Homo sapiens: one gene and its partners. The protein of the gene in region 2 interacts with the protein of the main gene of each other region in a pairwise test. Each region holds a gene or a part of one and is shown on either strand. Other genes may lie near its edges. The genes, in order: LMCD1, TRIM55, MYBPC3 and DCAF6.

Region 1 (7,271 bases), on a different chromosome or scaffold from region 2:
AACAAATCCATAGTCGAGATTGGTTTCACCCAGAAAAATGGCATTTGGCCTTCAAGGCCCTTTGTTACCAAGAAATGTTGGCGATTTCACCATTCTCAGGGAACTGTCTGTGCTAGGAAACCTTCTCTTTCCTAATAGAAAAAAAAAGATGGTTCAAGAGCAGCCGGTGGAAGCATTTTACTTAGAAAGAAAGAGAGAAGTTAGGGAACTTGTAAGCTCTGCCACGATGTATGTATGTGGCCCCCAGTGAGTCTCTTTCCCCAGCCTGTCTGGGGTTGGTTAGATGACCTTTAAGTCTACTCCAGTTTTTAGATTTTATGTTCTTTGCTGAAGATCTTTTTATGACTTTCCAGTTGGTGGGGATTCCCGCCCCAGCCCCCTCGGGGGTAGGGAAGCGGAAACAGCCTGTATGCCATTTTAAACCATTTCTCATTTTGTAAATAGGCCCCTTGTAGCTCTAAGAGTCTATGAAATTGTTTCAAAATGTCTAAGTGCGATTATGCATCCTGAAGCCAAATGTTATAAACCTCCCCCACATACTGTTGCAGATTTAAAAAATAAATATGCAGTAAAAGCTTTTCAGCGTGTTGCTGATATCACGTAGTACTTAATCACTTCTGTGACATTCAGTTCAGCAAGGGGAGCTTCTCGGCTCTCCTCCCTCCCCTCCACATTTTGAGTTGAAGGCATTGGTTAACCTACAAAATGGTGATCTTCCTCCTGATTGTCGCAGTCCCAAGAGATAAAAAAAATCTGCCCTTTCATCTCTACCCACCACATTCTTTCTCTAAGCCTGTAATTGGATCTAAATGGAAAACAAACCCTTTGCAGGCCAAGGAAGTTGGCACTAGGGGGTGACAAGAAGGAGAACATGTTCCACCTCTAATCAGGATAATCACACTCCCCTATGCAAAGGAAAATAAAAACAAGGCTTCCTCCAAGTGGCAACACAGGACTGTGGTGAGGAGGAGGAGTCTCCATATACCTCATCTCACCTCATACAGTAACTATCAACCAGCTTATATTAAAAATACTCAGAATCATTTCACTTTCCAGAGGACAATGGAACTCTGCCACCTTTAGCCGTGAACTATTCTGTGTCTGAACTTGGGGAGGCAGTTCAGACACACAAATATCAATGCTACAAGTTAAAAAATAATGCATAAAATGAAGCCTATGCAAACAGTGTGGTCTTAGCTGGACAGATATTCTCATGAGTCACCCACAGGTTTTTGAGTCCTGCTGTGTGGCATGGTGTGCTATGTTCAAACAGGGATGAACAAGACAGGTTTGCCCTCAAGGAGTCCAGAAAAATGTATAGAGAAATAAGAGCATTGCATGCATAACTCACTACTAGGTAGCAATTAATAGGTATCTTCTAAGAGTCTAAAATGTTATGGTAATTTCTGTAGGAGGGGAAATGACTTGATTCTGCAAATAGCTTGGCAAATGCAGTGAGGCATGATACATTCCAGACAAATGCCCAGATTCAATGTGACTTGGTACCCACATTTAGAAGGATCCACTGGACTCTGTGACAGGGTCTGGGCAGGTGGTCTACAGAAGAGCACAGCTACAAATTAGACAGTGCATGCTGTGCCTCTGAGTGGCTGTTTGTGTCTTTAGTTTGATTCTCACGTCTTTTGTTTTTCCCCCTCTCATTCTACCCTGCAGGTTAATGGCAGATATTTAAGGAAGACTTTGCCCTTCAAGACTAAACCCTGTGAAATCAGAGTTTAACAATGACTGCTTTGGGAAATTAACTCACAGTGTCAGTATCCCTGCTACCACTGCCATGAGGGAGGTTAGGCCTATCCTCCCCACATCAGAGACAAGGAAACTGAGGCTCAGAAAAGTGACCTGGTGAATCATGTGCAGTTAAAAAGTGGCAGGGACTGAGTCTGGATGCCTAGGGCTTGCCTTACAGTCAGCTGCCTGTTAGAACCAACTCTCTGTGACCCCGGGCCTCAGTTTCCCGATCTGTAAAGCCTAGGTTGTCTCTCTGTTCCCTTCCCGTTCACATGTTCTCTAAGTCTCCAGCCTGTGCCTTCTCCCAGCTGCATTCAGGTAGGCAACAAGTGGTATTGGAGCTATAGGCACAGCCGCAGGCTCCTGTGCAGGAGTTTACCCATGACCTTCTGGGCTCCGGGCCAGCCCTTCTTGTAAGGGAAACGTGCAGACCCTGGGGACAGAAATCAGTTCCCTTATGCTGGAACTGCTGCCACTGCCAACATCACCAACTAAAGAAACTGCGTGCGTGTGTGTGTGTGTGTGTGTGTGTGTGTGTGTGTGTGTATTGGGGGAAACACACAAAACACTGGGATAATAGCAAAAGGGAGACTGTGAGTAAATATTACATGCTCTCAACCCTTACTTCAGCCACCTGAGGACAGGGAGTGAGGAAGCTAGGGGTTTTTCCTTTACAGACCATAAGATTTCATATATATATATTATATATTATATATATTTTATATATAATATATATTATATATATTTTATATAATATATATTATATATTTTATATATAATATATATTATATATAATATATATTTTATATATTATATATAATATATATTATATATATTTTATATATATATTTTATATACATTTTATATATATTGTATATATATGTAAAACCTTAATTAAACTTTAACTAGCATCACCAAAGACATAAGACCCTTTGCAAATATTTTACACAACATTGGGTTTGGGGTGTGTGTGCCTGTTAGCTCAAACATGTATTCCCAACTATTTGTTTTCCATGCAGTTTTGGAATTTAAAGAGTTCCCTTCTCATTACCTTTTGGGAAGTTTCCGCGAACAGATGGGAAGGGGAACAAGAAAAAGTAAGAATCTGGGTAAATACAAACAGCTTTCCACTCACCTTTTTAACTCCTGGGTTGAGGTCCTTAGCCACCTTTGCCATCCTCTTCTGGGGTGGGGGAACAGCGCCTGGCTTCTCAGGCAGAGGCGCGAGGGCGCGCAGCGGGGACAGCGGCGGCTGAATGGCCAAGTTCGCGGGCCTGGGAGGGAGCTCTGTGCGCAGCCAGGCGCAGCTGGGCCGCTTTAATTGGAGAGCGGGACTCCCTCTAAAACCTCGCCAGCCACTCCGCGCCGGCGCTCGCGCGAGGCCAGCCAATCCCAGCGCGAGGCTGTCCCCCTCCCTCAGGGAGGTCTCTGCACTGTGGCAGCGAGCGGAGCTGAGCGCCGGCTGCCCTGACGTCAGCATGGCCGCGGCCCCTGACTACCCAGCTCCCTTCTATCCCTCGAGCGGCAGGAATCCGTCCCCACGCCCTTTTCCTTTAAAGGGCAACGGGCCGAAGGTGGGGCGGGCGGCGCGGCTCCCGCGATCCATTCAGGTCAAAAGGGAGAGTGATCAAACAGGAGAGCCGAGGTATTTTTAGTGAGCTGGATCCAGAAATAAATGCTGAGCTGTGCTCCCCTTCCCACCCTTTCTGCCTGGTCGTAGGGGGCGCGGGGAGGGCTGAGGGAGGAGGTGTTTTGCAGGAGCTGGCTAACGTTTCCCAAACCTGGGCGAGTTCTCCAATATCCAGAGAGGAGAAAAGATTCCAGCGAGTTATGATTTTTTTAAACTTAACGTTCGTAAAGTATTAAACTGCTTTCTTATAACTTGCTTTAACATAAATCCTTCTTATTCCATGAGCAAGAAATCACTGTCCTGATCTTAGAGATGCTCCTGTGGACATACTGTCTTGTTGTATGCTCATATTATCTCAGATATTATTATTATTATGACTGTAAGACGATAGATGAGGAAATAATCAGAATAACTGGTCCACAGCTGAATTACTGAGCAAGGCTTTAACCTGAGAGACTGAGAGTAATAGAGAGAAAGCTCATGGGGGCGTGGCGGGGGGGGGGAGGGAGGCGGCGGGCACAGGATTGTAAACTATAAACTAGGAAGTTAGTAATTTTTAGATAAATGGGGTCATGCAGGCCTGGACAAACAAGATTCCATCTGAGTTCACAAATCCATGGAATGTGGAGTCCTTGCAACGCATAACATAACTACTCTTATAAGACAGAATTGGCCAGGTTCCTCTCTCTATGCCACGTTGTTTGCCTATAAAGCCACATCTCTCTGCTGAGCCGGTTCCACAGACTTGGATTCCAGAGGCATTTCCCCCCTGCCCTGACAGAGGATTAAACACAAGCCCTTTTTATCCTAGAGAGAATACTGCTGTCTCTGTTGTGAGGTGTTCGGCCTGTAACCCGTCTTTGCAGTGCCCCCTGCCAGAAAAACCAGGGTCCCGTGGGCTAAAATAAAACTCGGTTGCACAGAGACTGAAGAGTGGTCCCGAAGTACACCATTCGGGAGGGATTTGGTGAGAAGGGGAGGCTGCAGTTCCCACTGTGGGGCTGTCTCTTGCTGGAGGCTTTTTCCTCTTGAAAGCCTCCTCCAATTTAGTTCTTATCATCATCTCCAGTCATCCCAAATCTCAGCCAGGGATCCTGAATTGTGACTTTTTATTACATATTCCTGGAAAGGGCTTTTTGTGGCTTATCTTTTCCAAGATGAGGGATGACCTATTTCTTTTTTCACAGATTTCTGCTATAATTGATTTTTGCCTTGTTTGCTCCCAGCTATGTCCTCAAACACCTAGCATGTGGTATAGGCACAGTACACATTTGGCAAATGAATAGAGGTTGGGTTCTGGCTTTTATTTTTTTTATTGATACATCATGATTGTACATGTGGTATTTTGATATATGCTTACAATGTGTAATGATCAAATCAGGGTGTTTAGGATTTCCATCACCTTGAACATTTATAATTTCTTTGTACTGGGAACATGTCAAATCACTTTTAGCTTTTCTTTTTTTTTTTTTTTTTTTTTTGAGACAGAGTCTCGCGCTGTTGCCCAGGCTGGAATGCAGTGGCGCGATCTCGGCTCACTGTGACCTCTGCCTCCCAGGTTCAAGTGAGTCTCCCACCTCGGCTTCCCAAGAAGCTGGGACTACAGGCATGAGCCACCATACCTGGCTCATTTTTGTATTTTTAGTAGAGACAGAGTTTCACCATATTGGCCAGGCTGGTCTTGAACTCCTGACCTCAAGTGATCCTCCTACCTTGGCATCCCAAAGTGCTGGAATTACAGGAGTGAGCCACCGCACCTAGCCTCTTTTAGCTATTTTGAAGTATACAATTCACTGTTGTTGACTATAGTCACCCTACTGTGCTGTTGAATGCTAGACTTTTTCTTGCTATCAGACAGTGTTTGTTCGCATTAACCAACCTCTGTTCATCCCCTCACACCCCAGCCCACCATTTCCCAACCTCTGGTAACCTTCTTCTACTCTCTACCTCCATGCAGTAAGCAGGCAAAGTAAGAATAGGGAGAGATGGTGCAATGGCACACCTGGCCTGGTTTGTCCAAACTTCCAAGGTAGGCTGCATGTTAAACCAGTATGTAAATAAACAGTGGCCAACAGAAGCCTGGCCTGGGAGAGGAGGTTTCCACATGAATAGTCCTTTCAGTAGCAAATCCTAGGAACAATAGTGCTAAATCAGGATGTCATGCCAGAAGCCTTTATATTTTAGAGCTGTGGGAACAGAAGCCAGGAATATAACAAAGGCAAGCTTTATCCCTTTCAAACGAGGCAAAAGCCTGCCCAGTGAAGTCATTTCCCACTCCCTTCCCAGCCACCCTCCTTGCCCCATCTTGAAAAATCATTGTTCCATGAAATAATACTAATTTTATTAAGTTAACACTATTTATTAATAGCTCCAACCACAAGAGTCTCTCCCCCTCCTTATTTTTACCCTTGGCTCCAGGTACAATTAAGGAGGCAGATATTGCAGCTGTTTCTCAGAATTTCTCAGAACACGAGTGTCAGGAGCTGTTGCTTGGGGTGGCTCATTCCCTTCTTTCTGGAAAAAGACCTGCTGTAGGCAGAGAGGGGATCCCTGCTATCTGCTAGAAGTTGCTGTCTCCTCAGCTGAGGATTCTGACTTTGACACTTTAAACCTTACACTTGACCCTCTTGTTCCAGGGGACCTATATTCAGAGACTTAACCGGACACCTGGACAGACCATTACAACTTGGGACTTTTCAGGAGAATGAGGGAAATGTAGTTATTGCACCTGAGCCTCACTCCAGCTCTGAGGTCCTCTTCACTTCTCTTTGGAAGAAAATTGGATATCTTTTCCTAGTTGAAAGAGTAGAGATCTGATTTCTCCAAGGATCATCGCTTTTTGACACGGGATTATTAGAAGCATTCATTCATCTATCAAGGAGTTTTGGGATACTTGCCATAAGCCAAGCCCTCTGATAGGTGCTGGAAACATCAAGGTAAATAAAAGAGTTCTTCTCCTTGGAGAACATATTGGTCTAATAACTACTTCTGGGGCTCCCTGGTTGACAGAGCCCTAATCTTACTTGAACTCCAAGACAACTAGTCTCAGAGAAAACAGAAATCCCAAACAGTCCCAGGGCTGTATCAAAGGTCATACAGCTGGCAAGTGGCAGAGCTGAAATTTAAATTCAGAGTTTTTAACTTCAGATTGCACCCTTTCACCTATACTGCACTGCTTCCATAATGATTGCAGATGGTTGATTATAAGCAAAACAGGAAGCACTTGGATTAAGATGCTGCTGTTGTTGTCATCATTATCACTGGGCTTGTCCTAACTGGGATTTTTGACTCTGAGTCTCGTATTCTTTTTACCATTCATGAACAAATTAATTAAAGAAACAAATATTGAATTGGGAAATACTATGGATTAGGCCCTGAGCTGAGGATGCAACAGTGAATAAGACAGGAAATGTCCCTCCCCTCATATAGCTTCTATTCTAATGTGTGTAGGGGAGACAGGCATTAAACAAGTGGATAGATATTTAGATAAGGTAATTAAGGATGGCAGTGAGTGCCTAGGAGGAAATAAATGGAGAAATTCATTGGACACAGTCATTTTAGATTAGGGGGTCCAGGAAGGTCTGGCTGAGCAGGTGGTGTGTGAACTAAGCCCCAGTGAAGGAGAATGAGTCAGCTGTGAGTACAGTCCCCATGGAGAGAACATTCCAGGAGGATGGGGTCATGAGAGCAGAGACCCTGAGATGAGTGCGAGTGTGGCATGTCTGAGGGATCATGAGGTCAGTGTAGTGGGTCAGGGAGAATGGTATGAGGAGCCTCAGGTGAGGCATGCAGGAGCTGGCTCATGTGGGCCCCATAAACCATGCTAAGGAGTTTATGTTCTCTCCTGGAAATGGCAGGAGGTTAGACATCAGTGCTTTCCCACTGGAACACA
Region 2 (3,899 bases):
AATGCTGCATTCTTTTTCTATGAGAAAAACTCACTCTGTCAAACTACTACTTTGGTACCATAAAACTATTTTTTCTAAGCTATTTTCCAATGACTACATCTAATAAGAGAAACTTAATAGCATCTCCACTTAAGACGACTAAATTTAGTCATTATAAAATGTCACATAGGAAAATTTTCTTATGAAGAACATTTTGACTTTAATAATTACACAAATATCCTCCACATTTTTGCTTATGTCAACCCTAATCACTTTTATTCTTAGGAACAGGAACTACCTTTGTTCATTTCTAAAACTGAACAGCACATTTAATTAGTTTTACAGTGCATTTGCCTTTGGTAGTTTAGTTATAGCTTTAAACAATTCAATCAAATGTTTAATACTTCAAAATTAATTTGTCTGTATGAAGATGCATCTTATCCTGGGACCCTTGAAATACACTTAACTAATGGATGAATAAGATAATACAGAACATTGAATAAATCATTATAAGACGAAGCTTTTAAAAACATCATTTATTTAAGAGTTCATATAAAGTTACACTTATGTTCTGAAGGAGGCATTATGGTGGGACAAATATTAACAAAGCATGATTTAAATATATATATATTTAATGTGTGATATGTTTGTATATATATTTAAACACATGCAATTGTTCTACAATTTACCAGATTGGTGCCACAGTGAATAAAAGAGAAAGTAGACAGCTTTTGCTGGAAGATTCAACTAAAGTGCCTAATACGTGAAAATCTAAAACTAATATTAGAAAAATGTCACAAGAGATGCCCAGGCCTTCAGCTTTCTGGACCATGAAAGTGTCACCAAATTCAAAGAACATTTCTGAATGTACATCCAGTGACATCTGTTATGCAAAAGAGGAAAACTTTGTGAAACATTTCATAGCTTTGGTCAATGATTTACTTTTTGTCCATGTATTGATAAATCAGTCACTTCTGAGTTGACACTGATTTTCACTGACCACCTGCACTGTTAAAGAGTAAAGGAAATGAAAGCTACCATAATATAATAACAAAAAGTCAGTGCCTATGAGAGACAAAAGCATAGTGACCACTTTTTTCACCATTTGCCACTTGTTAGTGACATACACATGTACCACACCTACACACCCTTCACAACATTTTCCACACAATAGAAGATTTGTATAAGATCAAGTTTATTATTTCCAGTGCTTTCTGCAACTATTTTCTCAAAATATTCTTTCCCCCCAAGATGTTAGATAAGTCATATGGAATTGCAGTTTGGGGCTATTTTTGCAGAAATCCTGTTCAGAGGTCCCTTTCATCATCTGCATAATATTAATTTCACTTGGGCTTCCTGCTGCCCACATGCATCTCAGCCAGGCAGACAGAGGGGCAGCAGTTGGAATGAATATCATTCATTTAGGGAGTTCAACCAGGAAAAGGAGAAGATATGGCGAGCTGGCTCAGAATCAGCTCCACTGCCACTCGCTGGAGCTGCAGCCTGTCCCTGGAGGGGAGGAGCCTCAAATCCAATCTGCAATGGAAGAAAATGGGAATCAGAGAAAAAAGAGGTTTGTTCTTTTTGGATTGGTCCAGTCACTTTTCTATTGAGGAGAAAGTATAATAATAATAACAATTATTATTATAATAACAATATTATTATATGGCACATAATTATTAGAAATAGAAAGCAAGCTCAGATTATTTTGGCTACAGCCAAGAGTCATGAAAATAATTCACACTCATGATACAAAAAGAAGGAACAGTAATGCATGCAGTGGAGAGAAGTTCTTGGGAAAAAGGAGTTCAGGCTATTCTAGTTTTTTTTTTTTTTAAGTCCACTTGTACATGATTTATTCAGATGAAAGTCTCATTGAAACCTCTAGGAACTGGGTTTAGAAAGGGTTGCAGAATTTGAAAAAATTCCAAATTTAAATGGCACTGCTATGCCACATGACATTGTGGGACATATTAATATAATCCCTCCACTGCTGAAGAAGTTTCTAGCATGCATATACATATATATTTTCTTACTATAATTTTTACAAAACTACAGGCTTAATTTTGGGCAAATCATGATGGGATTTTTTTTTCTCTAGGTAATAAAATCTAATAACCATATCTATATTAAATCAAATCCAATATAAGCATGTCTAAAGAAATAATTATCTTTTGTAGGCACCTGAGATAGACAGGTTGCAATTCTGAATTTATTGATTAATCTATGTCATAAGCAAAATTTACTTATGTTGTTTTGCCTTTAAAAATCACAACTTAATGGAATGAGGGACAATCAGGAAGAAGTCTTGCTGAAATGCAATTTGATTTTATGAGCTCAAACTCTTTACATTTCAAGGTACCATGACAAACACCGTCCTTCCTAGGAGAACTATGGATAAATAAGCAAACATGTTCCGATGACATCACTGGTAAAATTATCCCACCAGATTAGAATGCCACTGATTTCAAAGCAGTGAGGTAGCCACATGCATTCAGCTCAGAAGCCCTGGATGATTTTATGAAGCTGCGATATGAATGGATAATACCTGGCACAAGTAAAGCAGAACTTTGGTTAAGTATGTTGTTTTACTGCCACTCAAAATAGTCTTGAGAGCAAAATGAGTTATTGGCCTGCACTTTACCAGATTTTACCCTAAACATATGTTTGGGGATGATGTTTCAAGAGCAATAAAATTATCCTAAGTCTTTATGGCTTTGGGATAATCCTTTGTACTGCCACATTGCTTCCTGATAGAAAGTTAAAAAGGGCCATGAAATCATATTAGCCACAGTAGAATAAAACTGAAATAGGTAGTTTTCTATGAAGGAATAGTGGAAACATCAAGCGAAATTGGGCTTTTTGAAAAAGAACGTTACTAGATTCTGTTGGTAATGTGTCAGATACCTCAATGTCCTTGAAAGTGAAGTAAAATAAACATTATCCTGACAGAATCCTGCACCTATTTTTACACGTCCAACTCCTTCCTTGCCCACCATAATCCTCTTACCCTGGCTAATAAACAAACAAACAAAAAACAAACCCTTAAGTCTCATGTATGGCTTATGCAAAAAACAACAACAACAAAAAACCCCGAAAGCCCAAATGACCTGGGCATATATAAAAAGACTTATTTTTAACCATTCAATTTGAGCAAATAGCGAATTCCGCCTGGATGAACAGACCATCAAGGTCCATTTTGTGGCCTCTTTTTCTTGAAGGCAGTTTCTAATCTAAAGGGAACTTCCATGGCAGCTGTTCTGACATAGTTGAAGGGTGACACAAGTTGGGTAATGTGTTTTCTGCAGAAGGCAGAACCTTTGGGAAACTGCTGGTAGCGAACAAGCCCCTGGGACTGCTTTTGGAATATGTATAAATTTTTGTGCTTTCCTCTACTAGAGATTGACATCTATCTTCCATTTAAAATGTTTTAGTTGTTAACCCACTATTGCCTTCATATTTGGGATTACATAGTTTGGGTTGGCTTCTCTTACACTTCCATGTTTCCAGGAAATTATTAAGTTTTCCTCCAAACAATATGGACCAATGCTATCTTTCAGAAAAGAAAAGCCAGTACCAGAGTGGGGGGTTATCCAATAGCAGAGGTTATCCTGAGTATCTTTAGATAATTGCACCATCTCCTTGGTCTTGTTTATATCCACTGAGGACCCAACAACCAGCTCAGCAAAGAAAGTTCTGTGCAAAGAGGCTTAGCCTAGTTTTGAATCCCACACAAACTACTTATTAGCTGTATGACTTGGACAAGTTAGTTAACTCTCTGAGCCTTAGTTTTCTCTTCTGTAAAATAGAGATGAGAACCTACCTTACAAGGTTGTCGTAAGGACTGAATAAAGTAATACACATAAAGCACTTTACACATGCCTCACTTATATTAGGTTGGTCCTTCCTTCCTTCCTTCC
Region 3 (4,839 bases), on a different chromosome or scaffold from region 2:
GTTAAATGCACTTTCCGCTGTCACAGCTCAGTTTCATCATCTGAAGAGTGAATGCTGTAGGGGAAGACAGGTTCCTTCTAGCGTTAATGTTTTATGAACTCAGAAACCACTCTGGGCCTGGTTTAATCATCGGGAAAACAAAACAAAAAACAGTATCTGCTCTCACTTTGCTGTGAAGATCAATGTCCCTGGGCTTTTTTCTTTTTTTTTTTTTGAGACATGGTCTCACTCCATCACCCAGGCTGAAGTGCAGTGGCATGATCTCGGCCCACCTCAAACTCTACCTCCTGGGTTCAGGTGATTCTCCTGCCTCAGCCTTCCAAATAGCTGGGATTATAGGCGCGCCACCTTGCCCAGCTAATTTTTGTATTTTTAGTAGAGACGGGGTTTCACCATGTTGGCCAGGCTGGTCTTGATCTCCTGACCTCAGGTGATCGGCCCGCCTCCGCCTCCCAAAGTGCTGGGATAACAGGCATGAGCCACCGCACCTGGCCATCCCCTGTGCATTTTTATGAAAACAGGCACACCGAAATTGAGAAGAGTGAGTTCTCTGTGACTGCACTTATCTTTTATTGCCCAATAAACATTGGGAAGACATAGCAGGCCAGAAAGGCCTGTCCCCAGACATTGTTTCTTGAGGCCACCCTCCTTTTACCCCAAAGATCCAGGGGCTTCCTTCAGGAGCCCTGTGGACCAGTCTGTGCAACACCCACTCAGGACTGCCCGACAACTGCCCTGCTGATCCCCCATCGCAGCACAGGAGACACACTTGTCACACATACATCCAACAGTAGGGAGGGGTTTCCCCAACTTCCCTCCAGGCTCCTGGCACGGGGCTGGCATCCGGTTGTACCTGCAACACAGGTTATCTTACGAGTGAATGGAGGGCCCCTACAGCCTCCCATTTACTGATGGCTGCCCCAGGACCAAGGGCCAGGGCTCAGCCACTGACTTGTGCCCTGGGTGTCGGGTGGTACATACCTGGCCATCCCCAGGAGCCAGCCTGGTCACTGAGGCACTGCAGAAGAGGAGGCCATGTCACTGTGTCCTCCCAGCCTTCTGGAAGCTATTGCCCATCTGGGCGTGGCAGGGTCCGTGCCCTTGCAGCCAGGGCAGGTGCTTGGCCGAGGACAACGGAGCAAAGCCCAGGGTCCCCACTGCCGCCCGCTCTTCCCATCTCCCAGGCCCTGGCCCCGAGGGCTCCTCACCTCGCACCTCCAGGCGGCACTCACACCGTGCCTCGCCCTGTAAGTTGGTGGCCCTGCAGACATAGATGCCCCCGTCAAAGGGGCAGGGCTTTCTAATCTCCAGAGTCAACACTCCCTGCTTGCTGAACATGCGGAAGCGGGCGTCTTCTCCCAGGTCCAGGCCATTCTTGAACCAGGAAATCTTGGGCTATAAATAAGGTAAAGAGAGGGAGGGAAGCCATCCAGGCTGAGAGGGGACCTGGCAGGGACCCAGGGAGACACATCTGTGTTTCTACTCGGGGGGTCCCACGAGAGTCCCTGACTATGCCCAAGGCTGGAAACAAACATGGAACCAAGAGTGAGTACCATGGCCCTGCCCAGGGGGAGGAACCCGGTCCATACACCCCAAGGTGGAGAGAAAGCAGGGGAGACAGGCTGGGGAGAGGACTGCTCAACGTCGGGGCCTGTGAGCCCTGCCTCCTGGTCGGCCTGGACCAGCGCCTAAAGTTCCCTACCTTGGGGCTACCCCGGACAGCACAGCAGAGCATAGCAGTGTAGCCCGCGATGACCGAGCGGTTCACCAGGGGCTGGGTGAAGCTTGGGGCCTCGGAGAAGTCCAGGGCCTTATAGTTGGGTGGCTCATAGGTGATGCCTGTTGGTGACAGGACTTGGTACCGAGAGGGCCACACAAAGCTAGGCCCCTCTCCCTGTTCCCACAGCCTCCCTGCCCCAGCCCCTGGTTGGAAGAATGAGGGTACAGCACCTGGTCTGGGGATAAAGACGGGCTCCTTGGTGGTGGCCGCTCTGTCACTAAAGCCAACCATATTCTGGCTGAAGACGCGGAAGTAGTAGCCATTGCCAATGATGAGCTCTGGCACCACGCAGTGGGTGCGGCGGTAATGCTCCAAGACGGTGAACCACTCCTGGGGGCAGGGAGGGAGGGGAGGCATCTCTGGGCCAGGCCCTTCCTGATGCCGAGAGCCTCTCCTGGGTGCCCTTGGCATCTCCACCCCTACTATGGAGGGATTCAGATCAGCAGAGGGAGGGTGAGGGGTCCACGGTGAGGACAGTGAAGGGTAGCTGCGGCCTGGGTCTGCCGGGCCTAGGCAGGGTGCACGTGGGGACCCCAGACCCTGGGCTCACCATGGTCTTCTTGTCGGCTTTCTGCACTGTGTACCCCCAGAGCTCCGTGTTGCCGACATCCTGGGGTGGCTTCCACTCCAGAGCCACATTAAGACCCCAGGCGTCAGTCACCCGGAGATCCTGGGGAGGACTTGGCTTGTCTGCGGGAGACAGACCCAGTTGGGTCACCACGCCTCCTGACAGTGAGCAGGGGGTCACTGGCTCCAGGGACCACCCCACCCCTGCCAACCAGGGCCAGGCCTGCTGGGGCAGTGGACTGGAAAATGTGAGCTGTGGGTTGGGTCCCCTGGCCCCACCCTTGGCCCCAGCAGCCCAGCCCAGGGAAGGGAAACAAGGGGGCTCAAGGAGGCCTTGGCCACGCACCAACAACCTGCAGCACCAGCGTGGCCTTGTCCTCCATGTTCTCAATGCGCACCGTCACCTGGTAAGTGCCTGAATGCACGCGGCGAGCGGCCCGGATGAACAGGATGGTGTCTGTGGGGCTGTTGCGGATGCTCACCTCCTCGCCTGCCAGGGGCTGCCCCTCTTTGGTCCAGGTCACCTGAGGCCGGGGCTTGCCCTGAGGGGAGGAAAAGCTTAACCCTGAACCTGGATCACTCCAAGGGCCGGCCGCCACCCCAGCCTCTGGTACCTCAGATCAGGCCAGCCCTGAGACATCAGTCCACTGGATGGGAACAACACACTATAGCCTCTCTCCCCTGGGGGACAGGGAAGGGGGCCAGTCCCACCTGGAAAGGGATGAGAAGGTTCACAGGCTCCCCGACCTTCTTCTGAATGGTCTGGCGCAGGTGCCTGGGCAGCTGAAGCCGTGGCCGTTCTGTGGGTATAGAGTGGGTAGCTAAGTGAGGGCCCGCCACAGCTCTGAGGGGCTCCACAGCTCCAACCTCCCTTGAGACAAGGCCCAGAGAGCTGCAGCTAAGAAAAAAGCTGCCTGCTGGGCCCTGCGCCTCCTTTAGCTCCTGCTAACACAGCAACTCCAGGCTGCCCAAGCCCAGCTGGCTTCCCCGAGCCTCACCACTTCAAAAGGCAGGGATCAGAGAGGGTAAGCAACTTGACTGAAGTCACACAGCTAGTAAGTCATAGACCAGGGTGTAAGCCTGGGCTTTGACACCCTATGCCCTGTGTTGTTACCACCTGAGTTTGCTGCCTCGTTCCAGCTTTGAGAACCAATCCTTACAAAAGATGGACCCTTTGTTGGGACAAGGAACAAAGGAATGGGAAGTGGATCCCAGAGGGACCAATCTGACTACATAGACAATATTTACCTGTTGGAGCTGAGACACTCCTGGAAGAGAGCTTGGGTACTGTGGCTTTTACTTTCCCTGTTCCAGAACTAAGGGACTGACATACACCAAGAGAGCCCTTTCTGCACTTTTTTTTTTTTTGAGACGTTGTCTCACTCTGTCACCCAGACTGGAGTGCAATAGTGTGATCTCAGCTCATTGCAACTGCCACCTCCCGGGTCCAAGCGATTCTTCTGCCTCAGCCTCCCAAGTAGTTGAGGGACTACAGGCACGCGCCACCACACCTGGCTAGTTTTTGTATTTTTAGTAGAGACAGGGTTTCACTATGTTGGCCAGGCTGGTCTCAAACTCCTGACCTCAAGTGATCTGCCTGCCTTGGCCTCCTAAAGTGCTGGGATTACAGGCTTGAGCCACTGTGCCTGGCCACCCTCTCTGCACTTTTTCCCTAGGCCTAGCGCATGGACGATGGCTCCAACCCCTCCTGTCTCTGCCCAGCGTTCTGGGCAGAGCATTCTGGGCCTCCCCAACTGTCCCCACCTCCACTGGACACCAAGGGCCTGGGGTGTCAATGGCGGGTCTTGTGACTGCACAAAGGGGCACTCACGCAGGATCTCCTGCACTGTCACCGGCTCCGTGGTGGTAACAGGGGCTCCAGGCCCTGCCATATTGTGTGCCCGCACTCGGAAAAGCAGCCGGGCCCCCGTGGGCAGGTCCTTCACCAGTATCGATGTGTGCTCTGTCAGCCCCTGCAGGGCAGCCACCCACTCTGAGCCTGGGGGTGGGGAGGGGGAGGCAAGGCCACAGGCTGTGTCACCACTGACACCCCACTCCCACTGCCCACTCCTCTGATAGGAATCTCCAGGATTTAAATATGTTTTTTTAAATTTTTATTTGTTTATTTATTTTTGAGATGGAGTTTCGCTCTTGTCTCCCAGGCTGGAGTGCAATGGCATGATCTTGGCTCACCGCAACTTCTGCCTCCCGAGTTCAAGTGATTCTCCTGCCTCAGCCTCCCGCGTAGCTGGGATCACAGGTGCCCACCACCACACCCGGCTAATTTTGTATTTTTAGTAGAGACGGGGTTTCTCCACGTTGGTCAGACTGGTCTCGAACTCCCGACCTCAGGTGATCCGCCCACCTTGGCCTCCCAAAGTGCTGGGATTACAGGCGTAAGCCATCGCGCCTGGCCTTAAATATGTTTTTAAAATGTAGTTGCTGATTTCGCACTGCTCAAAGAAGTGTTACAGTCAGCTTTACTCTGCATT
Region 4 (7,042 bases), on a different chromosome or scaffold from region 2:
TCATGACTTCTGTATTTTTCATTAGGAACTCTACAAACTTTACATTTCTGATTGTTGCTATATGTTTCATGTTCAACTGTTTTAGAAACTGATGGTAAATAACAGATATATGCCTCTAGAGTTAAGTACAAGGTTGATTTTGTCAGCAAAACAGGTTTTCAGTAGGTGACTGATGTCATTGAGGTTCACTTTAAAGATCTACTCAAAAATATGTCCCAAATAGAGAAGTGCTTGAGGCTTATATATCATCTTGATATGTGACACTATTTCTAAACTATTTATAAGGAAACAACTTTCTTGCAAAAATCAGAAACCTATACACAGATTTAGATTCAAGTACATTTTTAGTTATTGAGCTCAAGGAAAAGGAGCATATACGAATAACAAAAAGTTGGTAATTGTTATCCCAATCAAATTTAAAAAACATAAATTGCATTCTTCAACAAAATATCCAAAAAGAGTAACTGATACTTAAAGTACATCATTTCAGATTATAGTTACTTTGCCATATGACATATTTGAAGTGAACATCAGTCTGCACACAGGAAATTTCTTTTCATTCTATCCCCATGCAGTGCATGCAGCTAAATATAGTTTGTGGAAAGCGACCTGCTTTACAATGCTTAGCACTTAGAATTCAGTAAGTCCAAAGGGAGTATTAACTGTTAATAGGAAAGGTGGTTAGCTGTGGCAAAAGAAGACCTGGCAAATCCATCATAAAAAAAAAATTATGAAGGAACATACTGAATTACCTCATTATTCTATCACCTATTGTTGTTCCTCTGATATTAAATCTAGTGAAGGGAACACAATAACTGAAATCACTTACAAAGACTTCAAAGAACCAAATATTTAAAGCATTAAGGACACCCTTTTTATCATCAATCATCTCAATTTAAAAAAAAACTTTTGTTTCCCTTTGTGACTTCGGGCATTAAGCAAGGAATATGTCAGTCAACTAAATGTATATGAAGAAATTAAGGAAACAGAAACACTCATTGAAGCTAGAATAGAAGGAAGACATTGCACTTAATCCCTTTTATCTTTTAAATAAATCAGAACCCAATCCTGTCACAGTATGGGAAACTGCACTGGCTTATAATGAATACCATCCTCTGGAACACGTACATGCTCCTCAAAGCTGAGGAGCTCTTTGGAAAATAAATAATTAAGCCCTAAGCTAATTCACTTGGCCTAACCACAAGACTATATAACAAATGAGCAAAGAATAACAGGGCTTTTAACTCCCTAGGAGTCCAGTTCTTTCTCTTTGAGTACATCTTTTCTCTCTGCAATTTTCTTTAATAAAGAGTAAACTGCAATAATGAGAAATAAGGAAATCATGGTTACAATGATGACTGAATAAATGCTGCCAAATTTACAGTACAAGGAATTTTGGCTTTAAAAGTGAGGGCTATGCTCCATGGTCCAGAGTAGGTATATGGAACCAAATTTCTATGAAAATAACACTTTAAAAGTTATTAAAGGGCAATATAGGATAAATCACTCTTTAGGGAAAAAATTGTTAGATCATCCTAACTGAGGCTATAATTAAAAACTATTCAAGACTATGTGAGGACTTATTCAGGAAGCTTTCTTAGATGCTTGTTTTTTTTTTTCAGAGAGTAATTTAGGTTTTCTCTTGAGTTTAGAAACAGTAAGAGCTACCAATCAGGCCGTCAAATCACTTACAACAGATTTGGCATTGTAAAAAAAAAAAAAAATTATACAGCCTGGGTGCGGTGGCTCATGCCGGTAATCCCAGCACTTTGGGAGGCTGAGGCAGGCGGATCACGAGGTCAGGAGATCGAGATCATCCTGGCTAACACGGTGAAACCCCGTATCTACTAAAAATACAAAAAATTAGCTGGGCGTGGTGGCAGGCGCCTGTAGTCCCAGCTACTTGGGAGGCTGAGGCAGGAGAATGGCGTGAACCTGGGAGGCAGAGCTTGCAGTGAGCCAAGATTGCCCCACTGCACTCCAGCCTGGGTGAGGGAGCGAGACTCCGTCTCCAAAAAAAAAAAAAAAAAAAAAAAAAATTATATGCAGATTATCTAAACAGAGATCTCAACCACACTCTTTTCATTCCAAGGGCATATATTTACGTTTCTTAACCCAGTATATGGCCAGGCGCGGTGGCTCACGCCTATAGTCCCCCAGCACTTTGGGAGGCTGAGGCTTGAGGCCAGGAGTTCAAGACCAGCCTGGTCAACATAGTGAGACTGTCTCTTCTAAAAAAAAAAAAAAAAAAAAACAACAACAACAACAACAACAAATTAGCAGAGTGCAGCAACATGCACCTGTAATCCCAGCTACTTGGGAGACTGAGGGAGGAAGATCGCTTGAGCCCAGGAGTATGAGGTTGCAGTGAGCTATGATCATACCACTGCACTCCAGCCTGGGCAACAGGGCAAGACCCTGTCTCAAAAAAATAAAACAAAATGAAATAAATACAGTATATAAAATCACTAAAAGATACACATACTATTTTTTTGCTTTGTTTTGCTTTTTTCCTAAGTCAGACTTATTTTTGACATTAGGACTAATTTTATTTTTTTAAACACCATGATTAGAGAACAAACATTTCTTTCTGTCTTTTTTCAATTTATTTCCCATTTACTGTTCCATGTTCTTGCCTTACGCAAAGTTAAAGGGAACCCAAATATGTGGAGATTCATATTATTTCATTGTTTCAAAGTCTGGATTTTTGCCAGTAGAGGCATTTTACCACAGACTATAGTTTGATTTCTCTCTATAACACTGATTACTATAGAGCAGGTATTTGCAAGCTATGGCTCTTGGGCTAGATCTCCGCCAAATGCCGATTTTTGAAATGAACCTTAGGCTAAGAATAGTTTTTACATTTTTAAATGTTAATATTTTAAATGGTCATATAAGTACCTACCATAATGGTCTCCATTTTGTCTCCTGGCCAACAAAGCCAAAATATTTACTATATGGCTCTTTAGGAGTAAGTCTGCTGCTCTGCTATAGACTCCCAGTTACATTTACATAGACTTGCTGTAGTTAATGAGAAGAGCATTCCATTTAAAAATATCTATGTTAGTTGTTAAGGTCTTCATTTTCTAAGACATTTCCTTCTCATGCTTGATCTCAGCCCAAAAGTGAAAACCTGGGTCATTTATTTAACCAAATTATAAGAATGTAAATATTTTTTTAAAAATCATTACTCTGTATTGCAAGGAACTGTTCTGATATTTTCAGTAAATTTGTCAGAAATGACTTAGCTATAAAGCCTTTTAAAGTTTCCTTTTAAAAATTAAATTTGGAACAAAAACTGATGAGGTCCACTATATAGTTCTTCATATAAAGTACAGATCAAATTAAGTATACACTTGTATAATATTTAATTTTAGGACCACTTCTCTACCCCAGCTAAACTAATATTGACTGGGCTTTGCAAATGGCAGCATGGAGGGAACTTTAAGACATACATCCTTTTAGGTGGGCATTTCATCCATGTGTGCAATGTATCCTTGGACTCTAGGAACCAAATGGTATGATTGTTACAACAGAGCTTCACAACCCTTAGTCTCTTGGGAAACAGAAACTCTCCAAAATCATAGGACTAATTACAAGCTGGTAAGTGATTCTTTTCATGTTCTTAAGAAGCAAAATCTCTTAAACTTTCTCTCTTTAGAATAAAAGTCAGCTAAATTGAGAAGTAAGATAAACTGGCAGGAGTGTCAATGATGAAGAGCCCTTAGAAAGGTGCAGAAATATTAAAAGTATACTTTTTTACAGTTGTTCAAGATTAAATCAGGATGGTGCCAAAAAAGTTAAGAATTATAATAACCGATTTAGATAAAAGTCAGAGGAAATATTTACACCATTTACAAATTTTTGGTAAAGAGCTAGAAAATAATGCAAATCTCAAAGGAAAATTAATGTAATTGTTACTCTAATCACTTTCTAATTACCTCAGTATACACATCTTTTATATATATATACACACACACACATATATATATAATTGTATTTACTTTCATATATTAAATGTTTTCTATGTTCCTATAAATGGCTTCGGTATTCTCTCTTATTCATAAATAATTAAGTTTCTTGAAGGATAAGAATTTTATCGTTCTTCTGTTACTCTTCAGGAAGTTTACTACTATATCTTACAAAACAAAATACCATGTAGGACCAACATAGGCTAAATACTCAAATGAGTGTACAGAATATTAAATAATATTTAATTTTTAAAAAGCAGGGAACTAAATGTGATCCCAGAGTGGTTTCAAATCTGGATTTAACCATGAAAGTATGAATTCAAGAGTATATGCATGAAGTGGGATCAGTTCCAGGCTGTTTGTTGTCACTGATTATCTCTCTTCTAAAAGATTCTGCTAGTCTAGTTCAGCATCTGGGTTTCCTTGGGTCAATGAGGCTATTGGGAACCAACTTTGTGACAGATCTAAATGCTAAAAGAATCCCTAAAACATATAAATCATCTAAGTATTATGAAGATGATAAAGATCTATAGAAAGATTACAGTTTCTGTATTCTCTAGGACCCACCCTCCCTCAAATCCTCCTTTCTCATTAATGTTATAGTACTGTGTTTCAAAAAACAAAACTCCTTAGCTCTAGAATATACAAAACCCTTTGCTTAGCACCTAAGTTTCCTCAGCTATAAAGCAGGCTTGGTATTAAGTGTTATAATTAGCCTGCATAGAAGCTGCTAAATAGTTATGACTTTCTCAAAGTGTCTAATATCCATTAAAAACATTACTAGAAACTGGGCACTTAAATTTAATTTTCAATTATGACCTCCGTATCATGTTCTACTACTTAAATGTAGAAAAATAAGACATTAGCTCATTTATATAAATGGAAGGCCATAAATGTACAAGCTTAATTATAGAATCTAGCTCTCAACCCTGGGTTTTGGAAATTATCAGTTTGATTTTGGAAATTATCAGTTTGATTTTCAAATTGTGCTAAGCTTGCTAACCTCATCTGCATAAATTAAGTGGTAATGACATTCTAAGGAACTCCCTCTGGGTATGGAAAGAAATAGAACTAAGTCTTACTTGCCTAAAATATATACTAAGAATGCTCAAGATTACTGTGTACAGGTAAAGAGAAGATGTTTGATTAATCTCTAAGTATAAACATGGGAAATTCTTGCTTCATATCTACAAAAAAAGTGCCATGGCAAAGTAAACATTTCCCAAATATGACTAAAGAAAGAAACATACCCTTTCATAGTTAAGAAAAGGCAGTTCCCCTGAGCTGCAAGCTATCCTCTTCAGGATTTTTGCCTGTCTTCTTTCAGTCTTTATCCCTAGAGTCATTCTTACTGTAATTCTTTTAAAAATTAAAGTGGCCTCATAGACTATCTTGATTGTTTAATACAGCTATCATTTAATTAGTGCTATTAACATGAGCCAGGTCACATCATGATTGACTGATAGATTTTTTTAAAATTCTTACAATAATTTTAGATAATCATAACCCTATTTTATAGATAAGAAACTGAATCTTTAAGAGTCATTAAGTAATTTGAATGAAAAAACACTGCTGGTAAGTGGTGAAACCAGTATTCAAACCCATCATCATGCTCTTGACTATGAGTGGTAAATTAATCTTTCATTATATTTTTCAGTTGACAGATACTTTAGGGTATCTTATAAACAGCAATATATTGAGCATATAAAATGTGAAATATTTCAAATAGAATCTCACTCCTTTGTAAACTAGGATTTTAAGATTAAAACTAGGTTCTCTGAAAGAGGACAGAACTTACAATAAGATATGATAGCACTAATAATAGAAATAGTTTTCCATGAGTATGAAATGCAGTATACTTTAAAAATTTATTTTAACTCCCACAAAAGAAAATATATCCTTGTGATCACATAAAATATAGAAAAACTATAAAAACATGTTGGCAATTCAATTTTTTATTGCTGCTATGGTATTTATTTGGTATAATTTTTCATTTTCTAAATTCAGTCACTAAGTTTAGTAGAAATCAAAGAAAAACAGTGTTCCCAAAAACAGAACTACTAACACACTACCTTAATCCAGGGTCAATAGAAAAGCAGAAAAAATTAACATTAAAACCAAAACAACACTGATAAAGGCCTGGATATCTACAAGATAATCTGAGAGCTAAGTATAACCTTGACTTCATAAATAACCTGTGGGTCATTCTTAACATTCTTTTCTCTTGATCTGTAAATTCAGAAGCAAGCCTCAGTGCTAGAGATATGGAGAATGAAGACTTTTTATTTCCCTATTAATGCACAGTGCTCAAAGAATATAATACGTAAAATCATTTACAGTAAACTGTAAAGTTTCTTTAAGTTTATATGAATGAGACACTCTTAGAGGAAGCAACTGTCAAAAATGGAGAGATTCCCTTCAATGACTTCAAACAAATCCTTGTGAAATACATTTTTTACAGTTCATGTTAATTAAAAATTTACCAACCTATCACCAGGTCCTGCTCGATACCTTGCACCTGGGATCAGGACTGGGTCATCATCACTGTCATCTGTGTCCTGAAGAGCAGAGTCCCTGGTGGATGTTTCTTCATGAGCTGAAGGCCCAGTGGCTTCTGTTTGGAACTGAGGCTCAGGATTGGTGTTATTTTCATTGGTAGCACTCTCAGTGCTAGTCTGATCTGAAGTTTCTGGTTCCTTGGCTTTTTCAGATGAAGCAGATTCTTCTGGAACCCCACAAGAGCGATCAAGATTGAGGTCATTTCTTTCTCCTGAGTTGGAATCCAATGGCTTGGCTGTGAACTTATCTGATTGTGCTGTCAGAAAATAAAGTTGTATGTAACAGGTGGTAATGTGGGCAATACTAATTATTTAACCTAACTTAGGAGCTCACAAACACATTCTAATATGATGTCTAATTCCTCTATAAGGGGAGGAAACTTCCACAATACACTTGAACATGGCCTCTAACTATAGAGAGATTAACATAGATTAAGGCTTTTTATTTTCCCATACAAAGCAATTATCTAAAGGGAGCAACTCACTTATATTGATATGGTTCTCAACTGGGTT

The links.
Region 1: the proteins of TRIM55 (region 2) and LMCD1 interact in a two-hybrid assay, tested with the Homo sapiens proteins (one study listed by BioGRID).
Region 3: the proteins of TRIM55 (region 2) and MYBPC3 interact in a two-hybrid assay, tested with the Homo sapiens proteins (one study listed by BioGRID).
Region 4: the proteins of TRIM55 (region 2) and DCAF6 interact in a two-hybrid assay, tested with the Homo sapiens proteins (one study listed by BioGRID).

The regions. Positions count from the first base shown.
Region 1 is NC_000003.12:8,497,594-8,504,864, reverse strand, and holds the start of LMCD1 (LIM and cysteine-rich domains protein 1), read right to left. Parts: upstream 3,043-7,271; 5' UTR 2,927-3,042; coding exon 2,885-2,926; intron 1-2,884. UniProt on the Homo sapiens protein: Transcriptional cofactor that restricts GATA6 function by inhibiting DNA-binding, resulting in repression of GATA6 transcriptional activation of downstream target genes. Represses GATA6-mediated trans activation of lung- and cardiac tissue-specific promoters.
Region 2 is NC_000008.11:66,172,087-66,175,985, reverse strand, and holds the end of TRIM55 (tripartite motif-containing protein 55), read right to left. Parts: intron 1,516-3,899; coding exon 1,393-1,515; 3' UTR 501-1,392; downstream 1-500. UniProt on the Homo sapiens protein: E3 ubiquitin ligase that plays an important role in regulating cardiac development and contractility, muscle growth, metabolism, and fiber-type differentiation.
Region 3 is NC_000011.10:47,330,864-47,335,702, forward strand, and holds the end of MYBPC3 (myosin-binding protein C, cardiac-type), read right to left. Parts: intron 4,347-4,839; coding exon 4,179-4,346; intron 3,148-4,178; coding exon 3,059-3,147; intron 2,890-3,058; coding exon 2,694-2,889; intron 2,471-2,693; coding exon 2,331-2,470; intron 2,111-2,330; coding exon 1,951-2,110; intron 1,840-1,950; coding exon 1,703-1,839; intron 1,396-1,702; coding exon 1,209-1,395; intron 1,019-1,208; coding exon 1,008-1,018; 3' UTR 982-1,007; intron 854-981; 3' UTR 543-853; downstream 1-542. UniProt on the Homo sapiens protein: Thick filament-associated protein located in the crossbridge region of vertebrate striated muscle a bands. In vitro it binds MHC, F-actin and native thin filaments, and modifies the activity of actin-activated myosin ATPase.
Region 4 is NC_000001.11:168,044,644-168,051,685, reverse strand, and holds part of DCAF6 (DDB1- and CUL4-associated factor 6), read right to left. Parts: coding exon 7,015-7,042; intron 6,787-7,014; coding exon 6,459-6,786; intron 795-6,458; coding exon 753-794; intron 1-752. UniProt on the Homo sapiens protein: Ligand-dependent coactivator of nuclear receptors. Enhance transcriptional activity of the nuclear receptors NR3C1 and AR. May function as a substrate receptor for CUL4-DDB1 E3 ubiquitin-protein ligase complex.